Homo sapiens: one gene and its partner. The protein of the gene in region 1 interacts with the protein of each later gene in a pairwise test. Each region holds a gene or a part of one and is shown in the gene's direction. Other genes may lie near its edges.

Region 1 (3,500 bases):
GAATATTCACAATCAAGAAGAATTTTTAAAACTCCTAATCTCAACCCCCAGCCAGGAGCAAGCTCTTAGAGCTCTTGGAGAGGTGTGCTGTGTTTCTGTGTATTGTGTGCATAGATTTTCCCGTTTTACATTTTATATCACCCATGCTGCTTTATGTGACTTTTCATGCTTTACACATGCAGACGCCCTGGCATGCCAGTCACTGGCATCTGCTGCTGCTGGGTACAGTGTGGCTGTGAAGAGCATGGAGCCTGGAGCCAGATGGCCTGGGCTTGAATCCTGGCTCTGCCACCTAACAGCCACTAACAGCTGAGTGACCCTGAGCAAACTACTTCACTGTCTATGTGTGGGTTCCCCATCTGTAAAACAGGAGTCATGATCGTACTGACACCTTTGAAGGTGGTGTTGGGCCTACTGCTGCTATCACCAATGAGAAAAATAAATAAAAAATAAAGTTGTCTGGAGAAGTGACAATATGTGAAAAGAGATTTCTATACCGTCTGGCCGAAAATAAGGGCAATATAATGTGTTCGCCCTTATTCATTGAAGTAATTTTAAGAAAAAAAATATTTGGTGGTTTAATAATTAGAAAGTAAATTACTAAATTAATAAAAGAAACTATCTTGGCTGGTTATATGGGCTTTTGCCAGTAATCCCAACCCTTTTTTTTTTTTTTGAGACAGAGTCTTGCTCTGTCACCCAGGCTGGAGTGCAGTGGCACAATCTCGGCTCACTGCAGCCTCCGCCTCCCAGGTTCAAGCAGTTCTGCCTCAGCCTCCCGAGTAGCTGGGACTACAGGCGCCCGCCACCATGCCTGGCTAATTTTTGTATTTTTAGTAGAGATGGGGGTTTCACTGTGTTAGCCAGGCTAGTCTGGAACTCCTGACCTCAAGTGATCTGCCTGCCTCGGCCTCTCAAAGTTGTGGGATTACAGGTGTGAGCCACCGCGCCTGGCCAGTCCCAACACTTTGAGAGGCTGAGGCAGGAGGATCATTTGATCCCAGGAGTTCAAGAGCAGCCTGGGCAACATGGTGAGACTTTGTCTCTACAAAAACAATTTATTGAATTAGCCAGGTGTGGTGGTACTCACCTGTGGGTCCCAGCTACTCAGGAAGTTGAGGCAGGAGGAGTTGCTTGAGCCCCAGGAGTTAGAGACTGCAGTGAGCAAGCCTCGACTGTGCCCTTGCACTCCAGCCTGGGCGACAGAGCAAGACCCCATCTCAACAACAACAAAAAGAGACTGTCTAGACAGAAAGTGCGATGTTATTCAGGTTTTATAGACTTTTTAAAAAGAACTCTTATTGCCCTGATTATAAAACAATCTTTAAAACCCAGAAAATACTAGAAAGTATAAAAGAAGAAAATTAGCATCTCCTGTCAGCCCCAGCCCATCAAGGATGGCTGTTCGTATGAGCCCTCTGACGTGCCTACACGTGTACATGATATTGCTGTAAAAGGGGTCATAGTCCTAATGTGTTCAGCATCATGGCCAATGGCTACAGCATCTTTCTTCAAATGACGCCACGTCATGAGTTAGCCTGTCCTTTATTGTTGGATATTTCGGTTGCTTGCAACTGGTCTCTGTTAAAAAAGTCTCTGGCCCAGCCCAGATGGTGAACTCTTTTGGCCAAGTCTGGATAATTTGAAGTCAGGTGGAGACCTCTGCTCACTGTCTCCTCCTGACCCTTAACCCCACCACCCACAATGCACCAGGTCTAATTGGTAGCTGCACCAATTCAAGCTATGAAGATATGGGGCGCTCAGCAGCTGTGGCCAAGCAGGCACTGGCCCATGGCCTCAAGTGCAAGTCCCAGTTCACCATCACTCCAGGTTCCGAGCAGATCCGCGCCACCATTGAGCGGGACGGCTATGTGAGTGCCCATATCCCCCTGCCCATCTCCCCCACCCCATGCTGAGTAATGCCTCCAGGCGGCACAAGCCCAGAGGCCTGTTGGGCCGGGGCTGGGGCAGGTCCCAGTGGCTGCCCTGGGGTTCCAGTACAGCACTTCGTCCTGCAGCCACCACATCACCCCTTCCCATCAGACTCTCACCCACCCTTGACATTCTGTCTTCCTCTCTCCCTGGCAGGCACAGATCTTGAGGGATCTGGGTGGCATTGTCCTGGCCAATGCTTGTGGCCCCTGCATTGGCCAGTGGGACAGGTAAGAGGCGTATCTTTTGACAAGACAGCCCCTTGTGCACAGGGTACAGAGCCCCAGAAGTTGGAGGGGGAATTATTGGGGTGGAGAGAAGAGACTCCAGCCAAGGTCTCTAGCTCCAGGGACTCTTGCCCATTAGAAGCCTCTGGCAGACATGCCTGGGAAGAGGGGCTGGGTGAGGAAGGGCCCTGCAGAGGCACTGGGGGGCAACTTGGCTGAAGCCTGGGCTGGCAGGAGGAAGCCAGCGCGGCCTCACCCTGACGGACACAGCAGGAGCCGTTTGGGAGGAGGCAGTGCCCCAGGTCAGGAAACTCAGGCCTTGACCAAGGCCTTGCCTCTGGCTTACGTGTGGTTGCAGGCTGGGCCCAGTGATCCTGAGGTTCCCTTCTGCTCTGCGCGTGGCCCCAGGAGGAGGCAACCCTGGCAGGGCCTCTTCATTTTCCCTCGGTAGGAGCTAGGCTGGGCTGCGCCACAGGAACCCAGCTTATCTGTCCTCGGGACAGGCCAGGTGACAAGGCCAGATATCCCTAACCCTGATCCCTCTGACCTGGCAGGAAGGACATCAAGAAGGGGGAGAAGAACACAATCGTCACCTCCTACAACAGGAACTTCACGGGCCGCAACGACGCAAACCCCGAGACCCATGCCTTTGTCACGTCCCCAGAGGTGAGACTGCCCAGCTGCGCACAAGCCTGGGATGGCCTCTGGGGGTCCCTGGCGGGTCAGAGGAGGAGGCAGAAGGAGATGGGGACTGGGGTCATCCAAGTGGTAGCCAGGAGCTACAGGCCTTCCCAGCCTCAGGCGCATGCTTGGTGCTTCCTGCCTGGGGCTCCCTGGGTCATGGGATTATGAGATATTTATACAGTGGTTTGTGCTTATGAGCATGGAATTTGGAATCTCACTCACTGCCTAGGACACATCCCAGCCCTGCCTCTAACTCGCTGTATGAGTGTGGCCAAGTCACTTACCTTCTCTGTGTCCCCGTAATCCTCGGGATTACCTGGGAAAGTGCGTGGGACACATGCAGTTTCCAACCCCAGGTAGGAGTTCCACAAAAGCGAGGCCTTTGCCATTGTTCCCGTGGCCAGAGTGAGCCTTGCCCTTGGCGGTATTCAGCCCTGGCCGTGACTGGCACATGGCCAGGCTCTCTTGACTTGGTTGTTTATCTGCGTGTTCTACAAATATGTCTTGCTAAATGGGTGAAGGAATGGCTCCTTCCATGTTTTTAGTGTCCTGCGCACTGAGCAGGTTTGCATCATACCAGCATTTCTGCGCCAGGGCCCCCACTCCCTCCAGGATAGCTGTGAGGAGAGAGAACAGCACTGCCGGCCCGGCCCTGCA
Region 2 (3,500 bases), on another chromosome or scaffold:
AATAATAATAATAATTAATCAGGCATGATGGTGTGCACCTGTAGTCCTAGCTACTTGGGAGGGTGAGGTGGAGGGTTGCTTGAGCCCAGGAGATGGAGGCTGCAGTGAGCTGGGAAAGTGCCGCTGCAGTCCAGTCTGGGCTACAGAGCCAGACCCTGTCTCAAAAAATAGTAATAATATAGTAATAATATTATTGTGGCCCGACATGGTGGCTCACGCCTGTAATCCCAGCACTTTGGGAGGCTGAGGCAGGTGGATCACCTGAGGTCAGGAGTTCGACACCAGCCTGGCTAACATGGTGAAACCCCATCTCTACTAAAAATACAAAAATTAGCCAGGTGTGGTGGCATGTACCTGTAATCTCAGCTACTTGGGAGGCTGAGGCAGGAGAATTGCTTGAACCCAGGAGGCGGAGGTTGCAGTGAGCCGAGATCATGCCACCACACTCCAGCCTGGGCAACAGAGCAAAACTCTGTCTCAAAAAAAATAAATTATTGCTATGATAGATTATGTCGCTTCCTTGCTCAGCACCCTCCTATAGCACCTGTCTCATTTGGAATAAATGATGATGTCCTTGCGTTGCCCACGTGGCCCTACATGCCGTGGCCCCTGATAACTGTTTTTCATTTGTTTTGTTTTGTTTTGTTTTTTTCTTTTTTTGAGATGGAGTCTTGCTCTGTTGCCCAGGCTGGAGTGCACTGGCATGATCTCAGCTCACAGCAACCTCCGCCTCCCTGGTTCAAGTGATCCCTCCTGCCTCAGCCTCCTGAGTAGCTGGGATTACAGGCGTCCACCATCACTCCAGGTTATTTTTGTGTTTTTAGGAGAGATGGGGTTTCACCATGTTGGCCAGGCTGGTCTCAAACTCCTGACCTCAGGTGATCCACCCACCTTGGCCTCCCAAATTCCCGTGATTACTGGCATGAGCCACTGTGCCCGGCCCCTGATGACTCTGCTATTGCCTCTCACCCTCTCCCTCTGGCAGATTCCACTCCAGCCACACTGGGCTCCTTGCTGTTCTTGGACATGACCGTCATGTTCCCACCTCAGGGCCTTTGCACTGGCTGTTCTCGATGCCTGAAACACTCTTCCCCCAGATCTCGATGCATCTCTCCCACTGTTCCTTCAGATTTTTATGCAAATGTCACCTTCTCAAGAAGCCTTCCCTGACCATGCCTGTACAACTCCAACATAGCCAGCTTCCCTGTGTGATATTTTTCCCATAGTATTTATTATCTTCTAAAATACTGTGGATTTTGGATTTTGCTCATTTCTTTCTTTCTTTTCCTATTTTTTTTTATTTTTTGAGACAGAGTCTCTCTCTGTCATCCTGGCTGGAGTGCAGGGGTATGATCAAGCTCACTCAATCTCCTGGGCTCAAATGATTCTCCCACTTCAGCCTTTTCGGCAGCTAGGATCACAGGCACGCATGACCATGCCTGGCTATGTTTTAAAAAATTTTCGTAGAGATGGGGTCTCCCTATGTTGCCCAGGCTGGTCTAGAACTCCTGACCTCAAGTGATCTTCCCACCTTGGCCTCTCAAATCGTTGGGATTACAGGCCTGAACCACCGTGCCCAGCCCCAATATTCCAATGTACTAGGGTTCTGGCATTGTAATATTCTAGAATTCCAAGATGCCACTTCTAACAACACTAAGTTCTAGAATTCCAATTTTTTTTTTTTTTTTTTGAGATGGAGTCTCACTCTGTCTCCCAGGCTGGAGTGCAGTGGTGTGAGCTCAGCTCACTGCCACCTCCACCTTCTGGGTTCAAGAAATTCTCAGCCTCCCAAGTAGCTGGGATTACAGGTGCCCGCCACCACACCCAGCTAATTTTTGTATTTTTAGTAGAGACGGTGTTTCACCATGTTGGCCTGTCTTGAATTCCTGACCTCAAGTGATCCACCTGTCTTGGCCTCCCAAAGTGTTAAGATTACAGGTGTGAGCCACCACACCCGGCCTAGAATTCCAATATTCTAAAGCACTGGAGTCCTTATGACGCAATATTCCAGTTTGCAAGGTGCTGGTGGGCCGGGCTGATGGACACCCTAGATCTCCAGGGCCATGGAGTTTCCTCCTCTGAGTTTTCATCGTCTTTCTCTCCTGCCCAGACACCAGGAGCCTGAATGGGGAACGATTCTGTCAGCTACGAGTATGGGGATTACAGCGACCTCTCGGACCGCCCTGTGGACTGCCTGGATGGCGCCTGCCTGGCCATCGACCCGCTGCGCGTGGCCCCGCTCCCACTGTATGCCGCCATCTTCCTGGTGGGGGTGCCGGGCAATGCCATGGTGGCCTGGGTGGCTGGGAAGGTGGCCCGCCGGAGGGTGGGTGCCACCTGGTTGCTCCACCTGGCCGTGGCGGATTTGCTGTGCTGTTTGTCTCTGCCCATCCTGGCAGTGCCCATTGCCCGTGGAGGCCACTGGCCGTATGGTGCAGTGGGCTGTCGGGCGCTGCCCTCCATCATCCTGCTGACCATGTATGCCAGCGTCCTGCTCCTGGCAGCTCTCAGTGCCGACCTCTGCTTCCTGGCTCTCGGGCCTGCCTGGTGGTCTACGGTTCAGCGGGCGTGCGGGGTGCAGGTGGCCTGTGGGGCAGCCTGGACACTGGCCTTGCTGCTCACCGTGCCCTCCGCCATCTACCGCCGGCTGCACCAGGAGCACTTCCCAGCCCGGCTGCAGTGTGTGGTGGACTACGGCGGCTCCTCCAGCACCGAGAATGCGGTGACTGCCATCCGGTTTCTTTTTGGCTTCCTGGGGCCCCTGGTGGCCGTGGCCAGCTGCCACAGTGCCCTCCTGTGCTGGGCAGCCCGACGCTGCCGGCCGCTGGGCACAGCCATTGTGGTGGGGTTTTTTGTCTGCTGGGCACCCTACCACCTGCTGGGGCTGGTGCTCACTGTGGCGGCCCCGAACTCCGCACTCCTGGCCAGGGCCCTGCGGGCTGAACCCCTCATCGTGGGCCTTGCCCTCGCTCACAGCTGCCTCAATCCCATGCTCTTCCTGTATTTTGGGAGGGCTCAACTCCGCCGGTCACTGCCAGCTGCCTGTCACTGGGCCCTGAGGGAGTCCCAGGGCCAGGACGAAAGTGTGGACAGCAAGAAATCCACCAGCCATGACCTGGTCTCGGAGATGGAGGTGTAGGCTGGAGAGACATTGTGGGTGTGTATCTTCTTATCTCATTTCACAAGACTGGCTTCAGGCATAGCTGGATCCAGGAGCTCAATGATGTCTTCATTTTATTCCTTCCTTCATTCAACAGATATCCATCATGCACTTGCTATGTGCAAGGCCTTTTTAGGCACTAGAGATATAGCAGTGACCAAAACAGACACAAATCCTGCCCTCAGGGAGCTGATATTCTTCTAGTGGAGGAAGACAGACTATAAACAAAGATATATAGGGCCATTTGCGGTGGCTCACGCCTGTAATTCCAGGGCTTTGGGAGGCTGAGGCAGGTAGATCACTTGAGGTCAGGACTTCAAGACCAGCCTAGCCAATATGG

The links.
Region 2: the proteins of ACO2 (region 1) and C5AR2 interact in a two-hybrid assay, tested with the Homo sapiens proteins (one large-scale study listed by BioGRID and IntAct).

The regions. Positions count from the first base shown.
Region 1 is NC_000022.11:41,521,117-41,524,616, forward strand, and holds part of ACO2 (aconitate hydratase, mitochondrial precursor), read left to right. Parts: intron 1-1,713; coding exon 1,714-1,871; intron 1,872-2,088; coding exon 2,089-2,162; intron 2,163-2,713; coding exon 2,714-2,825; intron 2,826-3,500. UniProt on the Homo sapiens protein: Catalyzes the isomerization of citrate to isocitrate via cis-aconitate.
Region 2 is NC_000019.10:47,338,675-47,342,174, forward strand, and holds part of C5AR2 (C5a anaphylatoxin chemotactic receptor 2), read left to right. Parts: intron 1-1,812; exon of another isoform or gene 1,813-1,938; intron 1,939-2,110; 5' UTR 2,111-2,125; coding exon 2,126-3,139; 3' UTR 3,140-3,500.